Linked DNA regions of Homo sapiens. The protein of the gene in region 1 purifies or fractionates together with the protein of each later gene. This does not show direct contact. Each region holds a gene or a part of one and is shown on either strand. Other genes may lie near its edges.

Evidence for each region. The genes of interacting proteins can lie anywhere in the genome.
Region 2: the proteins of SETD1A (region 1) and ATN1 purify together in Homo sapiens (affinity purification with mass spectrometry, with the first as the bait; one large-scale study listed by BioGRID). This does not show direct contact.

The regions. Positions count from the first base shown.
Region 1 is NC_000016.10:30,974,754-30,978,253, reverse strand, and holds part of SETD1A (histone-lysine N-methyltransferase SETD1A), read right to left. Parts: intron 1-3,500. UniProt on the Homo sapiens protein: Histone methyltransferase that catalyzes methyl group transfer from S-adenosyl-L-methionine to the epsilon-amino group of 'Lys-4' of histone H3 (H3K4) via a non-processive mechanism.
Region 2 is NC_000012.12:6,934,459-6,937,958, reverse strand, and holds part of ATN1 (atrophin-1), read right to left. Parts: intron 3,495-3,500; coding exon 3,381-3,494; intron 2,413-3,380; coding exon 398-2,412; intron 115-397; coding exon 1-114. UniProt on the Homo sapiens protein: Transcriptional corepressor. Recruits NR2E1 to repress transcription. Promotes vascular smooth cell (VSMC) migration and orientation. Corepressor of MTG8 transcriptional repression.

The sequences.
Region 1 (3,500 bases):
TCGCCAGGTGGGAGTGCAGTGGCGCAATCTCGGCTTACTGCAACCTCCGCCTCCCGGGTTCAAGCGATTCTCCTGCCTCAGCCTCCCGAGTAGCTGGGACTACAGGCATGCACCACCACACCCAGCTAAGTTTTGTATTTTTAGTAGAAGCAGGGTTTCACCATGTTGGCCAGGATGGTCTCGATCTCTTGACCTCGTGATCTGCCCGCCTCGGCCTCCCAAAGTGCTGGGGTTACAGGCGTGAGCCACTGTACCCAGCAGAGGGTCCTATCTTACAGACAGGAAAACTGAGGCACAGAGATGTGGTCAGTTACCAGATGACAGAACAAGCTCTGCTCCCAGGCCATGTGGGTTGAGCTCATGCTCTGAACTGCAGCCCACGGACTCACTGGCTTCACAACTGGCTTCCCCGCTCAGCGCCAACAGGGCCGCCGGCACCAGGCCCGGCCCTAGGAGGCAGCGATTCACCTGAGTCCACCGCACTCCCAACCCTGGCGCCCTGAGCCAGGCTCTTGGCTGCACCTTAGGCTCTAGACACCCGCTGGGGTCTCAGCCTGTGGCAGCAACCCACTCCAGGAAGCCAGTGAGGACCCAGATGCATGCAGGCCTCCTCTCACCTTCCTCCCCACCACGCTGGGGCAGCGCCCCCTACAGACCACCTCACGCTTCAGCATGCATGTCCTCGGGAAGCCTCGCTCGAAGAACACACTCCTCCACCAGCACAGCTGCTGCACACACACTTCCCTCTGCGACTGTCCCAAAGGGAACCTGCCCATCCCTCTCATTTAGGAGACAACTTTTGGGGGCACCTGCCCAGTCAATATGACTCCCACCACCTTCCTCTGAGAACTGCTCTACTGCCACGCTCAGGTCCATGGGGCGAGGCCCCAGAAGCCAGTTCCTACTGCATAACCTGCCCCTCCCCAGGGCCATCACTAACATCCCCAGGCGGCAATCACTAAGACGGTGGTGACTGAAACTGGTTCTGGTTATTAGAAACTCGGTGAGCTGGCCGGGCGAGGGGGCTCACGCCTGTAATCCCAGCACTTTGGGAGGCCGAGGCGGGTGGACCATGAGGTCAAGAGATCGAGACCATCCTGACCAACATGGTGAAATCCCGTCTCTACTAAAAATACAAAAATTAGCGGGCGTGATGGCGCGTGCCTTAGTCCCACCTACTCGGGAGGCTGAGGCAGGAGAATCACTTGAACCTGGGAGGCTGAGGATGCAGTAAGTCGAGATGGCACCACTGCATTCCAGCCTGGTGACAAAGCGAGACTCCATCTCAAAAAAAAAAGAGAAGAAACACAGTGAGCCTTCACTAAGCACCCCTTGCTCTGAGCCACGGCTCCTCTGTCCTCGGTAACTCAGACTCCCTTGTCGTGCCCTCTCACTATCCAGACACCAAGGGGCTGCCTGCATCTTCCTCTCCTCTTCCACCTCTGCCACCTCCCCAGGGGACTTGGCAATCACGCCTGTTTACCTGGATTCTTGCATCTCCAGTGATCCCCTTCAATCACCCTCAGCTCCCCTCAAGCAGCCACACACCTGGCCTTGTCAATCCCAGAATGGCTCCGCCTTGGAGATTCCCCATCCTCTCCAACATTCCCCACTGTCCATTCAGTCTGCCCCACTGCACCTTCAACTTCCCATCCTTCAGTTTCCCTCTAGCACATCACCCTCTTCCCAACTTCCTCCTCCACCCTGCCCAGACCCCAGGGCCCGTACTTTGCCCTCTCCTGTCCCAGCACAGCCCCAGGTCCTCATCATTCCACCACACCTTTACCCTGTGGAGCCAGCCAGCAGCCTCTTCTCCCCTCACTCCCAGGCCCCAGCTCTGGCAAGGCCTTCCAGCATGGGGAGGCCCAGGCGAGAGGCTTGCTCTGTCTCCAGGATACAGTGCAGCGGCACAATCACTGTTTACTGCAGCCTCCTCAACCTCCTAGGCTCAAGCAATCCTCCCGACTCAGCCTCCCCAGAAGCTGGGACCACAGGCATGTGCCACTATGCCTGGCTTTTTTTGTTGTTGTTGTTAGCCAGACTGGTCTCGAACTTCTGGGCTCAAGAGATCCTCCTGCCTCGGCCTCCCAAAGTGCTGGGATTACATGTGTGAGCCACCGCGCCTGGACTGGAGCAACTTTTCTCCACTTTCCAAGGTTCTTACTCCACTCTTCCTCTCACAGTCCTACAGCAACAGGGTCAAAAGAGGACTCAGGCACAACACCCCCATCTCCCTGCCTCCCCACCGAAGGGTATAACTGCATCAGATCTGGAAGCTACTCCTCCACCTCCCCAAAAAGGCCATGCCAGCAAGCATTCCTCTCTCCCGGCACATCTACCTGGCCCGTTCCCTTCAGTGGAACATGCCCAAACCTCATCTACTTGGAAAAGCTAACCCCTCCCTCAACCCTGCCCTCTCTTCTTGCTCTCCCTCCAGCTCTGGCTGGTAACCTTAGTTTGTTCCTGCATCTCACTAAGCCTTGAAGCCCTCATCTATAAAATGGGAATCACAGGGAGGTTGTGGGGCAAGCGCAGTGGCTCACACCTGTAATCCCAGTACTTTGGGAGGCCAAAGTGGGCTGATAACTTGAGGTCAGGGGTTTGAGACCAGCCTGGGCAACATGGTGAGACCCTGTCTCAACTAAAAATACGAAAATTAGCCAGGCGTGGCAGTGTGCACCTGTAATCCCAGCTGCTTGGGAAGCTGAGGCAGGAGAATCACATGAACCCGGGAAGCGGAGGTTGCAGTGAGCCGAGATTGCACCACTGCACTCCCGGCTGGGTAACACAATGAGACTCCATCTCAAAAAAAAAAAAAAAAAAAAGGGAGAGGTTGTGGGGATTCAATGAGAAAATGAATTGTCAACATGCTATGCCTAGAGCCTGGCACACATAGGTACTTGACACATGGGAGCTGATATCACAACCCCCAATTCTTTTTTTTGAGACGAAGTCTCGCTCTGTCGCCCAGGCTGGAGTGCAGTGGTACAATTTCGGCTCACCGCAACCTCCACCTCCCAGGTTCAGGTGATTCTCCTGCCTCAGGCTCCTGAGCAGCTGGGATTACAGGCGCCTGCCAGCATGCATGGCTAATTTTTTTTTTTTTTTGGAGACAGTCTCGCTCTGTCACCAGGCTGGAGTGCAGTGGCACGATCTCGGCTCATGGCTACTTCTGCTTCCCCGGTTCAAGCGATTACTCCTGCCTCAGCCTCCCGAGTAGCTGGGATTACAGGCATGTGCCACTATGCCCAGCTAGTTTTTGTATTTTTAGTAGAGATGGGGTTTCACCATGTTGGTGCTGGCCAGGATGGTCTTGATCTCTTGACCTCGTGATCTGCCCGCCTCAGCCCTCCCAAGTGCTGGGATTACAGGCGTGAGCCACCGCACCCAGCCTAATTTTTGTATTTTTAGTTAAGATGGGGTTTCACCATGTTGGCTAGACTGGTCTCGAACTCCTGACGTCAAGTGATCTGCCCACCTCAGCCTCCCAAAGTGCTGGG
Region 2 (3,500 bases), on another chromosome or scaffold:
ACCTTCTCCACCAGGTCGGCCCGCTTCTTGGCCAGCTTGGAGCCCTCCAGTGGCACGAAGTACAGGTCGCTGCGCGCGCACGAGTTGAAGCCGCGATCCAGGTGTTTGTTGAACCTGCCGGGCGTGGAAGCAGCGGGCGCTCAGGCGGTGCGAGCTGCCCGATGGAGCCCGCAGCGCCGCGGCCCCGGCGAGTGCTTGTAGCCCCCGCCTCAAAACCACCCCTGCAGGCTGTGAGCTGCTGCGGGCCTCACTGGCCACTAGGCCTGGACGGAGGAGAGGGGCGTGCTTTTCTAAAACACTACACCAGCGCAAGGCCCCTCCCTGCTACTCCCTCTCTCGTCGCCGCCTTGTCGTCGTCCCCTTTCCAGGCCCACCTCCGCCCCACCTGGCCGCTCACCTGGCAGACTGACTGGCATGGCTGGGTACATCTACCACCTTGGGAGGGGGCGAGGGGCTGCGGGCTGGGGGCACCGGGCTCTCGGGGGTCTCATACTCCTCAGCCGGCTCCTGTTTGATCTGCGTGGCGCTCAGGGGCGGCCCTGAGGCAGGGGCCGCAGGTGGTGGTGGCAGCGATGGCAGGCCTGAGGGCCCCGCAGGTGGCAGGGGCCCAGGTCCCACGGTGGGCGAGCCCGGCTTGAAGGTCCCTGGGCCTGCAGGTGGCGAGGTTCCTCGATAGCCCGGTGGGGTCCCCGTTCGGAAGGAGGGAGGCGACCCGGGTTTGTATCCGGGTGGGGTGGCTGTCTTGTAGGCCCCCGGGGACGGGGCTCTCTTTCCGTACGGTGGGGGCCCAGGTGGGGAGGCCGTTTTGTAGCCTGCTGGCGAGGAAGCCACGGTGGCAATGACCGTGGAAAGGGTAGCCGAAGAGGTGGTGACCGTAGGCACCGGTGGGAAAGGGTAGGGCGCCCCTTGAGGGCCCTGGGAAGGGGAGGGGTGTGAACATGGGTAGGACCCTTGAGAAGTGGAAGAGGAAGAGTTGGAAGAGGAAGAGACTGGAGGGCCATTGGGGCCTGCTTGGCTGTAGGACACCTGGCTGTGAGGTGGGGGCAGGTGTGCTGGCCCTGGTGGGTAGGGCCTCAGAGACCCCAGGGAGGGAGACATGGCGTAAGGGTGTGCGTGGTGGGAGCTACCGCCCTCCAGTGGGTGGGGAAATGCTCCAGGAGGAGGGGGCCCAGAGTTTCCGTGATGCTGCTGCTGCTGCTGCTGCTGCTGCTGCTGCTGCTGCTGCTGCTGTTGCTGTTGCTGGTGGTGATGGTGATGTGTTGAGACTGGTGGGTGGGCGGTGGACTGGGCCCCAGTAGAGGGAGGGAAGGGGCCTGGATGGGCATTGCTGTTGGCTAAGAGGCGGCCATAGGGAGGAGGTGGTGGGGGACCCTGGCTCCACACAGCCTGGGATGGGAGAGAAGGCTGAGTATACTTGGGGGGCTGATTGGAGACAGAGAGGCTTGTTGGGGGAGGGAAAGAGTGGGGGTAGCTGGGCAATGCCTGGGAAGCTGGGAAGGGGGAGGCAGAGGAAGAGGAGGAAGAACTGGAAGAGGAGGCTGCTGCAGAGCTACTACTAGAGGATGAATAAGGAAACCTCATGGGGGGCGCTGGAGCAGAAGAGGAAGCAGGAGGCAGAGAGTGGGGTGAAGGAGCCAGAGTTGGGCCCTTCTCTGGGCCAGGAGGAAGTCCACCCATACCCTGTCCCATGGCGTGGGGAGAGGGCAGATGACCAGGTAGTGGTTGGGCCCCCAGGCCAGGGGGAGAGGCTGATGCATTGTTGAGGGGTCTCAGGGCAGGTGGGGGAGGCAGGTTCGGTGTCACATGGGGGAAGTTGGCTGGTGGTGGAGCAGAAGGTAGGTTCCCACCACCCACTGGAGTGGTAGGCGGCTTTGTTGGGGGAGCACCACTAGCCCCAGAGCTTGATACTGAAATGGGAGTAGTGGGTGGGGGGTGCTGCTTACCCCCATTAGGGCCCCCCACTGATGAGGCAGCCCCTCCCCCCTTGGGACCCATTGGGGGTCCAGACAAAACTCCACCAGTGCCCCCAGGATAGAGCTGTGGGTGAGGGGGAGGGGCCCCAGGAGGAGCCTGGAACATTCGAGATGTGGGGGGCTCCATGGGAGCATGATATCCAGTGGGTGTCACAGAAGGATGGGGTTCAAAGCTAGCCTCTGGCTGTCGAGGGGTGCTGTCTGGCGGTTGAGGGGAAGGAGGAAAGAGTGGAGGTGGGTGGTAGGGGCGGGCTGGGCCCTGGGACAGGCCAGAAGATGAGTCAGAGTCATTCTCCACACTTCCAGGGCTGTAGATACTGGGGGACGTGCTTCGGTTGTCCTGGTCGATATCCCTAGGGTCGCTGCTGCCATCATCATTAAGGCTCCGCCCGTCCAAGCTATCCAGATCGGAGGGAGACTGTGGCCGAGGGAGTTCCTGCTGTAGAAAAGGGAAGACTCATTTTTTCTCTTTTCCTTTCCTGCTTCCCTGAGATTTGGGGCTCTCTTGCATAAAATCATTTCCCCTCACAGCACACTGTTGTACTGTGATGTGGTGAGTACTCTTGCTCAAGCCCACCTCTTACCATCTGGGGATTTCTCACTTTCCTCACATTCTTGGCTGCTCCCTAGCAGCCAGTCTTGTTTCCCGCCTGTAAAACCCTATTCCTTCCTCAAGGATCCATCTCAAGCACCTTGTCTCTACCCACAGCTGACTCCAACTCCCTGTCTTCCACCATCTCATAACCACCACTTTAACCATCCTCCATCCCCCAAGCCCTTGGTTTTTATACCACTTCTGGCCGGGCACAGAGGCTTACACCTGTAATCCCAGCACTTTGGGAAGCTGAAGCGGGCGGATCACTTGATGCCAGGAGTTCCAAACCAGCCTGGCCAACATGGTGAAACACTGTCTCTACCAAAAATACAAAAATTAGCCGGGCATGGTGGCTCATGCCTATAATCCCAGCCACTCGGGAGGCTGAGGCACAATTGTTTGAACCCAGGAGGCGGAGGTTGCAATGAGCTGAGATTGTGCCACTGTACTCCAGCCTGGGTGACAGAGCGAAACTGTCTCAAAAACAAACAAACAAAAAAAAACAATAAAAAAGAAAGACCACTTCTGCATTTTCCTTAAGATTTATTTGTTCCTCCGACTAAGACTTCTCACCCAGAGACTAGAATCCCCCAACTCTTCTGGTCCCCTTTGGCCCTGCCTGGTCATCTGGTGGTCTGTCAAAGCTCTAAGAATCTCTCTGGCATATTATAGACAGAACTGCTCTCATAAGCACTATGATCTGGCCTTTCTCTTATGTCCCAGGAGAGATCCAGCTAAGAATAGTGAGCATAAGCAAGTCTGAGAAAAGAATGGTCACAAGATGGGTCAGGATGGCGACAAGGGTTTCCCACCTCAGTTTTGGTCTTTTTTGGTGCATTGGTCTCCTCACTTTCACTCTCTGAGATCTCCTCACTCCGACCCTGCTTGTTGACCTTTGGGGTGGAGGCTTCCTCTACTCGGGCCTTCTGTTA